2 separate regions of the Homo sapiens genome follow, and region 2 is linked to region 1. A link means that fine-mapping ties the variant in region 1 to the expression of a gene that starts in the linked region. Tissue or cell type: esophagus mucosa. Region 1 holds a variant in brackets; the other region holds the start of a gene. All regions are shown on one strand. Distances are from middle to middle.

What was found. PIP is the estimated chance that this variant, and not a neighbour inherited with it, causes the effect.
Region 2: ARMH4 starts here. The variant in region 1 is fine-mapped to the expression of ARMH4 in esophagus mucosa (GTEx, PIP above 0.99).

What each region holds. Positions count from the first base shown.
Region 1 is chr14:57,984,951-57,993,246 of GRCh38, reverse strand. No RefSeq gene overlaps it. Among named protein-coding and RNA genes, the nearest start is that of SLC35F4, 120 kb to the right of the region's middle. The variant C/T (reference allele first, on the strand shown) is at 4,931.
Region 2 is chr14:58,148,630-58,156,925 of GRCh38, reverse strand. ARMH4 (armadillo like helical domain containing 4) reads left to right here and starts at 4,713. Exons shown (of 8, transcript NM_001001872.4): 1 at 4,713-4,851. RefSeq lists silencers at 4,519-4,588, 4,481-4,775, 4,669-4,888, 4,989-5,178.

The DNA of each region.
Region 1 (8,296 bases):
AGAGAGAGAGCGAGTGCACTAAGTGAATATATCCTTATGGTCTAAACTGGGATACAATTGAGAGTGAAAGGGGCACAGCTGGGTGCGCTGGCTCACATGGATCACTTGAGTCCAGGAGTTTGAGTCCAGCCTGGGCAATGTAGGGAGACCCTGTGTCTACCAAAAATTAAAAATTAGCCAGATGTGGTGATGTGCCTCTGTGGACCCAGATACTTGGGAGGTTAAGATGGGATGATCACTTGAGCCTGGGAGGTCAAGGCTGCAGTGAGCCATGATCATGCCACTGCACTCCAGCCTGGGTGATGGAATGAGACCTTATCTCAAAAACAAAAAAGTGGGGACACTGTTAATTACAATGGGATAACAGGCATAAACTGGAATGATCCTGGGAAAATAGGAACCTAAGGGACATCTTAGAGGGAGTGTATCAGACACCTCTTAGAGGAAGTGTAACAGACACTTCAAATCCTATCTTTTATTCCAGTCACCTAAGTAGCATTTAGTTTGGCACAGGCTTCCACCAGTTTGCCAGGGTGTGGGTTATTGTGGGGTTTCACTTGTCACTCACACATGTACAACCTGGAAATGTTAGGGGGGCTAACCTGGTGGGCCTTAACGAATGAGGATGGAAACTGATGGATAAATCCTCCCACCATTTGTTGCTCATGTGGCCGGTTCTCAGATACGTTTCATGAGGCTTCTCAGAATAGTCCTTAGGATTGAGCACTGGTTGTCCATTGCAATGCTACCTTGAAAATTCATCCTTGTATTGGCCTTCTCTCTTTCCTTGTTTCACTGCTACTTGCATGCAAGACTTTGTCTGAGGTCCTGCTTTCAGGGGAACTCAGGCTACAATAATTGGGATTTTGGAGTGAGATCACTCACTGTTCAGAGGTAATAAGGACTCCATTTTTGGAGGTGGGTGGAGTGGTGGTATCTGGCCAGCGCCATCTCAGTTACTAAGACTCTTACTGAGGTGGATTGGGATGAGGTGCAGGCAGAGGCAGAGCATTGGGTGGTGTGATAGCCGTGGTCCTTAAATAGTACAGGAGCAATGGTAATAACAAGGATTGAGCTGGCTGGTGTGTTTAGACTGCTTTGGAGGCTTTGAAAAAAGCAAATGAAGAAAATGACAGGCTCAGGTTTGTTAATTAGCAACATAAGGCATGTCATGAAAGCCAGAGGATCTGTATGGAAGTGTATCAGGAGACTCACATTGGTGGATTGTGCTGTCATTCTCACACTCAAGGTCACCCTCCAAGCAAGCAATCTAGATCAGGCAAGATGTTAATGAGCCTACATCAGGCAAGGGTGAGAAAAGTCTAAAGTGGATAGTGGAGGAGGGAGATGAAGAATATTATGATCTTGGGATCAGCTGGAACAGTAGAACTGGAACTTGTTCCACTAACCCTCTTGAATTAAGTCTTTGCAGAGACTATGGCTGGCCACCACCATGAAAGGGATTCTCTGATAGACTGAATTTAAAGAAGGGCACAAAAAACAAGCACAAGAAATGGATTGTACCTCCCTGTACACCACTCCAGATCCTCTTGCTCATGCCACTATTGTGTTTACCAGGTCTGTGCAGGTGTCAATCAGCTTTTGCATGGGTGCAGCCTGATAGAGACTAGCCTTGTGCTGTGGCTTTCTCACTTCTCTGACGCTGGACTGTCCTGACACCATGCCTTGGGAAGCACGTCAATACTAAGGCATGCACAGTTCAGAAGTACGAGGGAGTTGATATCTGTGAGGCCACCCTTGTCCATCAAGGGGGATGAGGATTGATGAATAACTGCTCTCTTTTCCTCTTTCAGGCAGACAGTTTTGAGTTGCGATTTATCAAGTTTCTCAGAAATCCTGTTGGAGCCAGTCACTTGTAACAGTGGCCACCTTGATAATGCATCCTCACTAATCCTTTCCCTCCTTCACTGTTCCCAGCTCCATCCTATACTCCTGGTCCCTGAGATCACATTTCCAAACAAACTACTGTGTTTAAGCTTTTGTCTCAGGTTCTGTTTTTGGGAGAATACAAACTAAGATAGACAGAGAGAGAGAGAGAAGAAGACAGGCTAGGCTAGGGTACAAAGCAAGGGAAGAAACTGTGATCTGGTATTAAAGTGCAGGGATATTTTGGGACATCAGAGCTTAATTTAGTACTATGATATTTCTAATAATGAAGTGACACATTTAGGCCACATGCTTCCTTGTTAGAAACTCTATAACCAGAGAATATAGCAATTTTAGAGCTGGAAGGATCCTTGGATCTCATTTTTAGCCTATCTTTTATTTTAAAGAAAAGGAAGTTTGGGCTGTGAATATATTCCAGTACATCTGATAAAAGGGATTACACTATGTCAAATCATCCATTACTAACAAAGATAACGATGAATATTCCCCCAAGTGTAAAATTATATATCTAAGAGTTTAGAAGACAGAAAAATAGGCAAAACAGGGTTAGGATAAGGTTGAGTGAAGGTTGACTTGTGCTCAAAAAGTATAAGGGCTGGGAGTATTTCAGAGAGACCAAAAAACCTTCCCAGGAGATAGATTTCTCTTGGAACTTGTTAAATTTTGGCCATGAAAGAAGGGAACTAATGCATTCTGCATGCCAAGCACTTGACATACTTAGCCATGTGAGGTAGGCATTATTACCTCAATTTCTATGTCAGGAAGTTGAGGCTCAGAGGTTAAATAACTTTCTAAGATGACTTATAATCCAAGTGCTTTTGCTTGTATTCTTTCCCTTCCACCTCACCATATTTCTTCTGCTAAAGAGGAGACAGAGTTTCCTCCATCCCCAGCAGTTCCAGAGTTTATAGGCGGCCTTGCCAGGGCTGTAAAAATAGTCCATTAGAAGTAGGAAGAGATCGTGGATCATTCCTTCTGGTCCCTCCATCCCAAAACTCCTATAAAAAGAAGAACTCGATTTTACCTTGAAGGCTAATTTAATATACTTTAGTTTCTACCTTTACCATTCCACTTCTCAGCTAAAAATTTTTACCAGAATGCTGGTTATAACTTGAAAACATTTTATTTAAAAAAAAAAAAAAGTTCCTACCAAAAGTAGAGTAAAAAAGAATTTTTTTTTTGCAGGCAAGATGATTGTATGAATCAGAGTTAATGAAAATATTATTTACCAATCAATGTCAAATTTAAAAAATCACATTCTTAGTGCTTTTGATAGGAATTTATTCATTTGTTCAATACGCTTTTTTTTTTTTTTGTCTAGAGCCACACTGTTCAGTGCAGTAGGAAGTAGCTACATATGGCTATTTAAATTTAAATTAATTTAAATTAAAATTTAAAATGTAGTTTCTTAGTCATACTAGATTCATTTCAAGTGCCCAAATAGCCACCACACATGGCTAGTAGCTCCCATATTGGACAAAGTGGATATAGAACATTTCCATCTTCACAGAAAGTGCTAATGAACAGTTCTGGCTATGCTGGACACATTGTTAAGTTCTGGGGATACAGCAAATGAATAGATATGGTCTCTACTTCATGAACTTACATTTTAGGGGAAAGAGAGAGACAAAAATATGCAAATAAATAAAATAATAATAGATGGTAATTTAGTCTTACAATGCAAATCTATTGTCTGCTGGGTAGACAATATTAGGAGCCAACTACTTCATACCCTGAGGTCACCTGAGGGATGTGAAGAAGCCATTGAGAAGAGCATTCAAGGCAGAAGGAACTGCAGGTGCAAAAGTCTTCAGAACTTACCATGTTTCAGTGAGGGGTAGAGAGAATGAGGGCTTTGGACATCCTGGGAAGAAAACTGGCCATCAAAGAAAGGAAACCATACAAGGAGGTTGTGGAGAACAGCTTCATAACGATATTTGGGAACAATAGTTCTTGAGTGTGCATTAAAATCACCTGGAGGCCTTCCTATAACAGATTGCTGAGCCCCACCCCGGAGTTTCTCATTCAGTGGGTCTGGGTAGGGCTTGAGAATCTGCATTTCTGACATGCTCGCAGGTGATGCTGATGCTCCTCATCTCAGGGTCACACTTTGAGAACCAGTGACTACCAGATTTAGTAGATGAAGAAAGGAAAGCTTGGAAAGATGACCTCACTAGCTCTAGTCCCACAGCTAGTTAGTGGAAGAGACAGAAAAGGCAGAGGTGGCAAGAGAGAAGAAGGCATAGCAGTAGAAAGCATGAGATCGTTTTCAAACTCAAATCTTCTTCACTGGGAGGAGACACGTGGAATCTGTGCACTGAGGAAATTTTGATGTGGTTCTAATGGCAGGCAAGTAGGAGCTCACCTTTGCGTGATTTATTAGGATCTGAGTTTGTTTATATATGGCTCATTTCAAAGGATTTATTAATCGAGAGCACGCTGGATATAGAAGCAAGTATATCATTGACTCAGCTGACTTGAGCCCTCTCCAAATTTTAAAAACCTTATCATATAGAATATGCCTGCTGTGTGGCTGCTTCGTGCCTAAGGCAGCATGCCTTGGAAGCGCTTGTGGATCAGCTTCAGATACTATAAAACATTCCATCACTTTTAAACATGACTGTCCCCTCCTCTCCCCACCCCCTTTCCTGATGGAAAGGCTACTACCTGTTTCACCGCAGGCTTGGGAGGGACACGTCATGATGACAGGTAACATTTGAACAGCTGCCTGCAGTTTAGTACCATGGTTCCAAAGATGGCTGCACACTAGACACACTAGAAGAGTGTTTAGAACTAACCCGCCCAGGGCCCACCCCTAGAGGTTCTGCTTTCATTGTTCTGGATTAAGTGCCATATAACAATATCTAGATCCCACTGTAGGGGTGATTGTGGTCAGCTAGCCTCTGCAAGACAAGTGAGAGAATGTGCCTGGCCTGAATTAGAGAAAGTCTCCCTGCTAAGCTCCTGGGCCTCTGGACAGGTCCTTCTCACAGTGGCCCTGGCTATTCTGGGAGAATGGGGG[C/T]GACCTTGACAGTCTCGGGAGAAAGTGAGGCCCAGGACTCGGCCCTGACAGTGGATCCTATTTGCCGAAATGGTAGCATCTGAGAAAGGACAGAGGATTTGAAATGAGGCGCTAGATTCCTCTTTCTGTGTCATTGGTGGCCTTATTTGGTGCTTTAACCAATGTAGATAGTGATGTAAAATGTGGGTTCTGGAGTCTGACTGCCAAGATTCCTAATCCCAGCTTTACCATATTTAGCTGTGCTAACTGGAGCAAGAAATTCAGTTTCTGCCTCAGCCAAGGGTCCTGGCAGGAAAGAGATGATATACTCAAATAATGTTACTGAAGAGAGTTTAACAAAGGGTGTGGGAAGGTTAAAGTAACCAGCGAGGGATTGTGAAGTCCCCAGGGACTAATAGCAGGGGAAGCCATTGTCACCTTTCTGCCTTCAGGGACAAAAGGGGCAGGAACAGGGTTACCTGAACCTAGGGAGAGCTGTCGTGTAGGAGGGGCCCACAGAACTGGAGCTTTGGCTGAAGAGGAGGAATACAGCCAGTGGTAAAACCGGCCCAACAGGGAGGGAGGAGGAGGGATAAATGGCCACACCTCTCTTCTGACTTTGCAGCTCAAGCCACTGCCTCCCATTAGCCCAACTCAACTGGAACCACAGGGCAAAAAGGCCCTACTGATGCAGTCACAGAGGCCAGTCTCCTGGGAACACAAAGCAGTACTAAGAAATGAGCAGAACACATATCACAGTCAAATTCAGTATTACCACCCCAAATCCAATAAGCCTCTGTGTTCTTGTCTGTAAAATGGGAATGCTAACAGTAATGGCATTTCCCTCGTAGGGCTGTTGTAAACATTAAATGAGATGGTGCATGTAAAGTCCTGAGCACAGTGTCTGGTCCATGGCACATGCTCCATTATGGCCACTGTTATTATTACATTACAGGTGACTACTTGGCCTGCAGGAAGGGACACCTCTTTTATGGACTGTAATCCTGACTCCAAGAGGCCTACAGGCAGAGCATTGCTCCACTCTTAGGCTGAGAGGCTCCTCATTGCAGAAGAATCCAGTTAGGCTTGGGTCTGGTCACACATATGGACTTGCAGTCACAACCAGTGAGTAAGACCCTGAGTCAGAGGAGGTGACAGCAGCACTCTCTCTTCTTCCTCACTCTTGTTTTTGGCCTTGTTGATGTTCGATATGTCAAGATAGATGAAGGCTTAGCCTGTCTGATGGACATGACCAGCTTTATTTATAGACTGAAATTCTTTAGGGTGAGCATCCCATGGTCCTGGTGGGTGATGGGGAATCACTTTCCTTCCCTGAGGAATGAGAAATGAGCGTGTGCATGGAGATTGGGACCACAGATTCAGGCAACAATGGCTTCTGCCACGAACAGTTTTTCTCACCTTCCTTTTCTATTGATAATCTCCTGCCAGCCTCACCATCCCAAGACTGGGCCCATAACCTGACCTGGCCACTCATAATTCTCTTGGAGCTGAGATTGACTCAAGGGCCCAGAGATGACAGTTTCCTCTTTAATGAAAGCCTATGTAGAAAATAATCTCTTGATCCCTTCCAGATTTAGAGTATTGGGAAGTTAAAATAAACAACAGAAAAAGAAAACTTTAGTTTAAATCTCCCAAATATCAACCACAGGACTTCTTTTTTGCTTGAGACAATATATGCATAGTGATTAAGAGAGCAGGCTTTGGAGTGCAAAGGCCTGGTTTCCCATCCTGGTTTGTCACTTAATGTGACCCTGGGCAATTTTTTCTTTTCTTTCTTTTCTTTTTTAGACAGGATCTCACTTTGATGCGCCGGCTGGAGAGCAGTGGTGTGATCACGGGTCACTGCAGCCTGGAACTCCTGGGCTCAAGCAATTCTCCTACCTTGGCCTCTGGAGTAGCTGGGCCTACAGGTGCATACTACCACACCTGGCTAATTATTTTCTATTTTTTTGTAGAGATGGGGTCTGACTGTGTTGCCCAAGCTGGTCTCAAACTCCTGGGCTCAAGCAATCCTCCCACCAGGGCCTCCCAAAGTGTTGAAACTACAGGCGTGAGCCACTGTGCCTGGCTAGATTTCTTTATCAAAACTCCTCTTCGTTTATCTGTGAAGTGGGGGTAATTGTTGCACCTTCTCCCCCAGAGCTCAGCAATCGGAAGTTATGTAGGAGTTGGAGTAGATGTCATGGGGATGGCATGAAGGTCATAGGGAGAGATTAAACAAAATCATGTATGATGTTGCTCAGCACAGCTCCTGGGACATAGGAAGCATTTCAACCCATTAGCTACTATTTATTATCTGCTTTTTTAAAGAACCTAAAATACAGAGATGTCTGTGGAAGTGCACAAAGCCTCTCCCAGCCCACAAAGTTCTGTGTGGAAAAGGTCACAGAGGTTTCAGCTGCTCTTCTCACCCCAAGATAGAGTCAAGGCCAGCGTTCGGATAGCAACTACAGTTTGCTTTAAAATGTAGCATGATCCAAGAAATAGAATTTGTCACGTTTAGTAGGATTCAGCCCGACAAGGTTTTGACTGATTAACCGTGTTTCCCAAGGTAAGAGAAAGTAATCACTCTGCCAGGGTCCCAGAAGGAACGAGGTCAAGGAGAGCTCAGTCCTTCTCTCTGTGTGATGGCCTTGAGAGAGATGGCTCTGAGAGAGCAGGCAGGAGCAAGCTGGGGGTCCTCATCTGGTCATACAGTGGAGATACTGTGATCCTGTTACAATCACACTGTCAATATGTCAGCCCAAGACCCAATCCTCTGGCTCTTGCTGAATGGGGAAGATGAAGCTTCCTTGGCCCAGAAGGAGCCTGGAGAGTCTGCTGCAAGGCGTATTCCCACTGCATAGATTGGATTCTTTTCTTTTGAAATGGCTAGTGTTCAAGAGTTCTTCATCCAGTTAAATTATTCTTTTCTTTTTGAGACGGAGTCTTGCTCTGTTGCCCAAGCTGGAGTACAGTGGCACAATCTCGGCTCACTGCAACCTCCGCCTCCTGGGGTTCAAGCGATTCTCCTGCCTCAGCCGCCGGAGTAGCTGGGACTACAGGTGCGCCACCACGCCCAGCTAATTTTTGTATTTTTAGTAGAGACGGGGTTTCAGCATGTTGGCCAGGATGGTCTTGAACTCCTGACCTAGTGATCCGCCCGCCTCGGCCTCCCAAAGTGCTGGGATTACAGCTGTGAGCCACCGTGCCCGGCCAAATTATTCTTAATGTTATAGCTGCTATTAGGTTGGTGCAAAAGTAATTGCGGTTTTTGCCATTAAAGGTAATGGAAAAAATTATACAATAGGAAATAACTATATAATAGGAAAAGAAGACACAGAGGAAATCATCTTTACCACCCTGCTACTCCTATAATGTGAATAT
Region 2 (8,296 bases), 160 kb before region 1:
GTTCTGAGATTACAGGTGTGAGCCACCGCACCTGGCCTGATTGGAGTTTTTATTATTCCCAAGCTCTAAACCTCCCCCTCACACCCGCCCCCCGCCACCGCCCCATAGTTTCTTGCTTTACCTGTAAAAGGTTAATAACATTCATTGTATGTGGATTTACTTATTTGGCTTGCACAGTACAACTTTCCTTAACCCACAATTTGTGTGTGTGTGTGTTGAGGGAAGAGAAGAGTAAATCTTATGACCACTGCCATGTATCAACAGCAGATGTTGAGATAAATTGTATAAACCAGAGTTGTTGAAAGCAGTACAAACCATTTTTGGAAGGATACAGGACTAGTATAAATGAGTTCCAATAAGATCACTTTACTTTTACTGCACATCTGAAATAATTTATATTGAGGAAATGGGAGACAGGAATTTTGCTATGAGAGAAGGGTAATTTTGAAGAATGGAAAATTTTGAGTCTAACTCAGGTCTGGAACTAGAATTCTGTACTTGGAACTTAGATTATCATGTGGCTACTGAGTCTCTAAGAAGAGTAGGATGTTAGAAAGGGATACTGAAAAGGAGGCAGGAAGATGTCAAAGAAACTTTGAATGTCTTGGCCGGGCGCGATGGCTCACGCCTGTAATCCCAGCACTTTGGGAGGCCGAGGTGGGTGGATCACGAGGTCAGGAGATCGAGACCATCCTGGCTAACACGGTGAAACCCCGTCTCTACTAAAAATACAAAAAATTAGCCAGGAGTAGGTGGCAGGCGCCTGTGGTCCCAGCTACTTGGGAGGCTGAGGCAGGAGAATGGCGTGAACTCGGGAGGCGGAGCTTGCAGCGAGCTGAGATTGCGCCACTGCACTCCAGCCTGGGCGACACAGCAAGACTCTGTCTCAAAAAAAAAAAAAAAAAAAAAGAAGAAACTTTGAATGTCTCAGATTTGTGTGTAAATGTGAGGAGAACTGGAATTCCTTCCTCTTGCTGTCTCTCTTCTGCCTGGCCATCTGGTTAGAACACCCAGAATTCAGGTTAGTTTTTTTTTAGTACTATTATTTACCTGTATTTGGGTTGAGTAGACTTAATATTGTGGGCTAGCTAGTAGCCCCGCCATACTATATAACATTGTTTTTACAAGAAGATGTGGTCTGAGTTTCAAACAACTGACTTAAAAATAAAATGCTGAAATACAACGTGGTCAGGCTGGGTGTGGCTCATCCACCTGGTGGGTACTGAATCCAGGTAGAAGACCTGGCCACAGTGCAATGTATTGCACTGAATACATACAAAAAGCAGATCTCAGGCCAGGTGTGGTTGCTGACACCTATGATCCCAGCATTTTGGGAGGTCAAGGCAGGCAGATAACTTGAGTGCAGGAGTTCAATACCAGCCTGGACAACATGGCAAAACCTCGTCTCTACAAAAAATTAAAAAAAAAAAAAAGCTTGGTGTGGTGGTATACGCCTGTGCTCCCAGCTACTCAGGAGGCTGAGGTGGGAGGATTGCTTGAGCCTGGGGAGGTCGAGGCTGCAATGAGCAGTGATTGGGCCACTGAATTCCAGCTTGAGTGACAGAGCATGACCCTGTCTAAAAACAAACAAACAAACTTCATAGATTCAATTCAATCCAATCACATTCTGGAAGTACCTTATGTACCCATAATAATGTTTCAGTCAACCACAAACTGCGTATAAAATGATGGTCCCATAAGATCATGATGAAGCTGAAAAGTTTCTATCACTTAGTGACATGGTAGCCATCGGAATATCCTAGCACGATGCAACATAATGCATTACTCTCCTTTGTGTGGTGATGCTGGTGTAAACAAACCTACCATACTGCCGGTCATATAAAATTACAGCACATACAATAATGTACAGTAAATACTTGATAATAATAAATGTCTATGCTACTCTGGCTTATGTGTTTACTGTACTGTACTTTTTATCATTAGATTATACTACTTCTACTTGTATATAAAAATGTTAACTGTAAAACAGCATCAGGCAGGTCCTTCAGGAGGTATTGCAGAAGAAGGCCTTGTTATCACAGGAGATGACTGTTCTATGTGTGTTATAGCCCCTGAAGCAGGACAAGATGTGGAGGTGAAAGATGGTGATAATGATCCTGACTCTTTATGGGCCCAGGCTAATGTGTGTGTTTCTGTTTTGTTTTTTAACCAAAAAGTTTAATTTTTTTTTGAGACAGAGTCTTGCTCTGTTGCCCAGGCTGGAGTGCAGTGGTACGATCTTGGCTCACTGCAACCTCCGCCTCCCAGGTTCAAGCGATCCTGCTGCCTCAGCCCCCCTAATAGCTGGGATTACAGGCACGCACCACCATGTCTGGCTAATTTTTGTATTTTTAGTAGAGACAGGGTTTTGCAATGTTGGCCAGGTTGGTCTCGAACTCCTGACCTCAGGTGATCCACCCGCCTCAGCCTACCAAAGTGCTGATATTACAGACATGACCCACCTGGCCTTTTAAAATTTTGTTTTTTAAATAGAAAAAGGCTTATAGAATAAGGAAATAAAGAAATGAAATATTTTTGAACAGCTGTACAATATGTTTGTGTTTTAAGCTGTGTTATTACAAAAGAGTCAAAAGTTACCCAGCCGTGGTGGCATGTGCCCGTAGTCCCAACTACTGGGGAGGCTGAGGCAGGAGGATTGCTTGAGGTTAGGAGGTCCAGGCTGCAGTGAACTGTGATTGTACCACTGGACTCCAGCCTGGGTGACAGAGTGAGACCCTGTCTCAAAGAAAAAAAGAGTCAAAAGTTAAAAAAAATTTATAAAGTAAAAAATTCAGGTAAGCTATGGTTAATTTATTATTGAAGAAAAAATGTTTATGTCTACAGTACAGCCTAAGTGTACATTGTTTACACTACAGTAGTAGTGTAGCATACAGTTATAGCCTACATAACTACAGTAGTGTAGTTATGTACAATAGTATACAGTTATGTCAGTAGTGTAAGGTTACGTACATTACAGTAGTGTACAGTTATGTCCTAGGTCTTCATATTCTCACTCATCATTCGTTGACTCACCCAGAGCAACTTCCAGTCCTATAAGCTCCATTTATGGTAAGTGCTCTATACAGATGCACCATTTTTTATCTTTTATACTGTATTTTTACTGTATTGTTTCAATGTTTAGATATAGAAATACCATTGTGTTACAATTGCCTACAGTACTGAGTACAGTAACATGCTGTACAGGCTTGTAGCCTAGGAGCAATAGGCTATACCATATAGCCTTGGTACGTAGTAGGCTATGCCATCTAGGTTTGTGTAAGTATACTATTATGCTCGCATAACAACAAAATTGCCTAAGGATACATTTCTTAGAATGTATTCCCCTAATTAATCAATGCATGATTATACATAGATAATAATTTCTAAAGGGAGGGGGAATGGGTAACAGTGCATACCTGCTGGGCACCGTGGCACATGTCTATAATTCAAACACTTCGGTAGACCGAGGCAGGAGGATCGCTTGAGTCCAGGAGTTTGAAACTAGCCAGGGCAAGATAGGAAGACCCCATCTTTACCAATAATAATAATAATAATAATAATAATAATAATAATAATAATAATAAAAAATTAGCCAGTCGTGGTGCCGCATGCCTGTGGTCCCAGCTACTTAGGAGGCTGAGGTGGGTGATGGCTTGAGGTCCCAGGAGGAGGTCGAGGCTGCAGTGAGCCATGATGGCGCCACTGCACTCCAGCCTGGGGGAAAGAGTGAGATCCTGTCTCAAAAACAAACAAACAAACAAACAGAAACCAGTACATACCTGTGCATTGTGTTAGGTGTGGGGGTCAAAGGTGAGCCAGCTTTTGCTCTGACTTCAAGGTGTTTATAATTAACTACAAAAGGGGACTAAGGTATTATGAAGAAGGGAGCTAATAAGCACAATAAGGGACAAATGTGAAGAGTGCTCTGCAAATGTAAAATGCTGCGTTGTGGAGGTTGTTCCAAAACGGGCCTTTAGATTCCGACACCTCTTTCCACACCATTAGAAGTAACAGAAAAAGAAAACAGTCCTTGAGAGGCTCAAGAATGGAGGACACAAATTCCCGGTGGCCACGCGAGCCGGATGACCTTGGAGAAGTTACACAGCCCTTAGCCTTAACCTCCTACCCTGGTAAATGAGAACTACAATATCTACCCTTCTATCGTGCAGATTAAGCAGGTAAAGTAATGGGCAAAGCATCTACTCTTGTGCCTGGCAGGAGTAAGGGCTCAATAAACCTTACTTGTGACTAGCACTAGTTTGCAACTTCTCCGACGGACTGAGAAGGGACATTCTGTGTAGAGTTACTTTAAGGGTCCTACTTAAGGGCACCGCCAAGCCGTCCATAGTTTCCACAAGGAACACTGCAGTCTCAGATTTGCGCTCCTTGCCTGAACCAAAGACAGCAAAATTGAGGTTTTTCTCGTGTAAACGGTGCCCTGGTCTCTTCCGCGTAGATAGGGAGGCGAGCTGCCGCAGAAGCTCCCGCTTAAAGAGGGGAAGCGGAGCACGGGATCTCCGAGGGGTCCCAGGTGCCGGGACTCCAGCAGAAGCCGCCCCCGCGGGAGAGCGGAGGCGGGGAAGTGGGCGCAGGGGGGCGTGGGCGACGGCGTCGGCTGTCAGTGCCAGCAGAGCCAGGGCGGGCACACCTACTCACCGCCCAATCCCCGGCCGTAGCCGCGGCCTTATGAATAAGCAACAAAGCGAAGCGCCCTCCCCCTAGCGTCCCAGACAGCGGAGGGAGTCGCCGCCGCTACCGCCGCCGCCGCCGCAGGGCCCGCCGCTGGGATGCCGAGCGCCCGCGCCGCCGCTGCCTCTGTCCTCCGCGCGCTGCTCAGCTGAAGGCGCACAGGTGAGGACGGGCCCGGCTCCGGCCACTTGGGCGGCCGCGGCTGCAGACGTGGCGCCGGGGCAGGGACGGAACCGGAGCCTCAGTGGCGTGGGGTCGCTCCGCGAGCGTAACAGTCCCGGGAGCGTTGCAGCCCTGGGTGCGCCAGGCGTGCGCCCCGATCCTCCTCCGGAGCGCGGTGCCCAGGTGTGGGGTGCGCGGGGGCAGCTCTGGGCGCGCTGGGCGCGGCGCGCAGGCCTCGGAGGACTCACCGCACTCCTAGCTCCAGCCCAGCCTCCCAGCTCCGCACCAGCGAGCCGGCCTTTGTGCTGGCGGAGCTTGCAGGGCTGGCTGCTTTTGTGTGGGCTTTTCTTTCTCTTTCTCCCTCCGCTCGCAATCCCACAGCAGTGAGAGAGAAGTTCCCGAAAACAACGGTTTACTCCTTTCAAACCGTCGATCGCAGTGTCCCCAATGCCACTCAGAGCCTAACAATCGAGGAGCGAATCGTTGCTGCGGTCACCACCGAAATATGTCCTGCCACTTTGCAGAAAACAAACAGTTGAGTGTTTAGCGCAGAGATGTCGAGCCTCCTTGCTCAGCCCCTGACTCGTCCCCCAGGACGCGGCTGGAGGACGCTCCTTGGAAAGGTCACTTAATTAGAAAGAGGGCCTGCGGGTTAGACCTGGGGGAGGCGAGGCTCTGCTTGAGACTCCGGAATAGTTGGGAGGTGCTGCCGGAGGTGCCCAAATGTCTCATGTGCCTCGTGGTCACTGACAGAATCTGACTTGTGTAGATTCCAAACATGTAGAACCTTGGCTGGCGAGGAGGCAAGCAGGAGTGAACAAAACAGGACCCTTAAGAGTTTGGGTTCTCAAAGATGAGATGATCCCGAGGATCCGCCTAGCACTTGGCATCCAATTTCAGTGCAGAACTGATGTGGAAGAGAGGAGAGATGGCTGCTTTAAAGTGTCTGCCTTCTTTCTTTGGAAGTTTTAGTTTGAAACTTGAGGGGGAGTGGGGAGTGGTTCACAAAACCATCCCTAGGGTTCTGAAGGATCTCTTCTCCAAAGGGCAAAAATTCTTGAGTGGTCAGAATTCACATGCCTTCTCTTTATTTTGGTGTATTTCCTTGATCACAAGTGATGCTGTTGGGCTCCAGGGAGTCTCCTTTTAGCCAAGCATCTACAGTCATTGACTGACTTCGGCACGTATGCCAGTAGAACCCCACAGTAGCATCTATTGAAACACACAACCGGCTAAGGTTTCACAGTATCAGAACATTGCTTCTTTTACACACAGAGGTTTAAAGGTACTCTGACTTGCTCTTATGAATAAAGTGGTTTTTTTTTTGTATTTGTCACAATAATGAACCGAGCACTTGTGCAGCAGACAGATTTGATATTAGTTGAGTTTATTCATAGAAACTCCCAAGGCTCACCAAGTCTAAGGTAGCTACAGCAACGGAGCCAATTAGAGAGATGTGAATTTGTCTTTGTTTTCATGGGAGGCTTCTTACTACATATTCCGGAGTTTCCTGCCAGACCTTTACAATATTATAATTTGGTATTACGGAAATGGTTCGATGCTAAATATAAGTGTAGAATCAAAATGAGGAAAACGGGTTTATCTGCTGTGGAAAATGTCCACTCCCCACCTAAAGGTGTCCTTTGCCCTTTATTCTGTAGATGTTTGTCTGAAAAGTGGTGTATGGAATTGTATTTTTGTTAATTGAACTTAAAAAACTTCTCACATAGGGAAGCTGTCTATGCAGAGGGAAACTGCTTTTAATTTTTGTAAAATGAAAACTCATTCCCTAAGCAAGATGTGAGGTCAATCTTATTTTTCCATATTGTGTTTACTTGGTGATTATAAGAGAAGTATCTGAAGCTAGTTTCAGCTTCCCTTTAAATGTCAGCTACTTAGAGATCTAGCCAAGCAAATGGCTACATTTGTGTACCACAAAAACCAGAAATGATATGTCCAATTGGGTCACTGAAATAAACTGTCTGATGGATGGAGAAGAGTTTGTTGATCAAGATTCATCAGGATAGGATTCTGCAGACAGCAGAACCCTCTCAGGTCACATTGTCTACATGATAAAGCTGAAAGGAGAAGCTCCATGAAAGTACCTTGGGGAAAAAAATGCTACTCCATTTGTGGCTGATGTTACAGATGCTCCAAATTGCTCACATTTCTGTATTTGACAGGAATGCATGTCAGTAGCATGCTAGTATGTCTTCTATTGCATGATAATTTACTTTTGTTTCAAACTGCTTTTATGTCTATTATCACTTTTGTGTGTGTTCTCCACCCTTTGAAAAAATATAACCAGCATTATTATTTCTACTTTGCAACAAGAAAACTTGAGTTTCAGTGATTTGCCTAAGGTAGAACTGGAACTCGAAGAAGCCTGTTTTTAAATCTTCAAGTCCATCTCCTTTTACCAGGGATGAGATGATATGCTAGGGGTGATAAGCACGGATATCTTCATTTGTCTACATCACTAATTTGTAGAGACTGAAGCTCCTGGGCTCAGTATGTAGAACTTAGGTGTGGTCTTCAGGGATGGTAAAGTACTTTTTACTGGTATTTAGTTTCCAGTAATTTAGCTATTTTGACCCCAGCCTACTTACCCTCTTCCCTGCCAGCTCTGGGGCTGCTTTCCTCCTGGGGGACCATGCTTTTCTTTGTGGTTACTTACTCCTTCTCCCTCCTTCCATTGTGATGGAACATGCTGCTGAAAGGATTGTTTGTCATTCAGCTATTTAATTTATGGTGAAGTATAGCTGCAGCCTAGATCCTAAAGCCAATATAACAGACCAGTGATGATTGTCAGTAGCACAGTGAATCAGAAACGTGGTACCTTAATGCCATTTGCCACAGCTGGGTTAATAGAGTGAGAGTCTTTATAAGCTCAGCTTTAAGTAAATACAATAGTATTGGCAATAAAATAGTGTTGGCAGTAACAGCCTTAAGGATTTAAAAAAAGAAAAAGTAAGACAATGATAAATTAATCATTGAGGAATGGTCATGAAAAGGACAAAGTGGAAAGATTGTTAAGACACAAAATGGAAAGATTATTAAGACACAAAGATTATTAAGACACTATCCCCCTCATCAGAGAATCACTAATTGTATTTCAAAAGGTGAGATGGTATTTGGCAAGCATGTTGACTTGACGCTGTGAGACTTGTTACCTGTAACTGTTGGTCTGTTGCGTGTGTGTGTGTGTGTGTGTGTGTGTGTGTGTGTAATAAACTCTGAAACCTTAAAATATAGCAGAAATGAGAACACATAAGTTATTGTTATTGTTAGAGTGACAGTTAAATAAGTAGCCAAAATTGGCTAGGTATTGAATAAAACATACAAGTAGACATGGTTAGACCATGAAATGTCATTAAAAAAATCTTACAGTACAAAATAAGGACTTGAAACGTTCTTTTTCATATTCTTAAATGGTTATTTATAT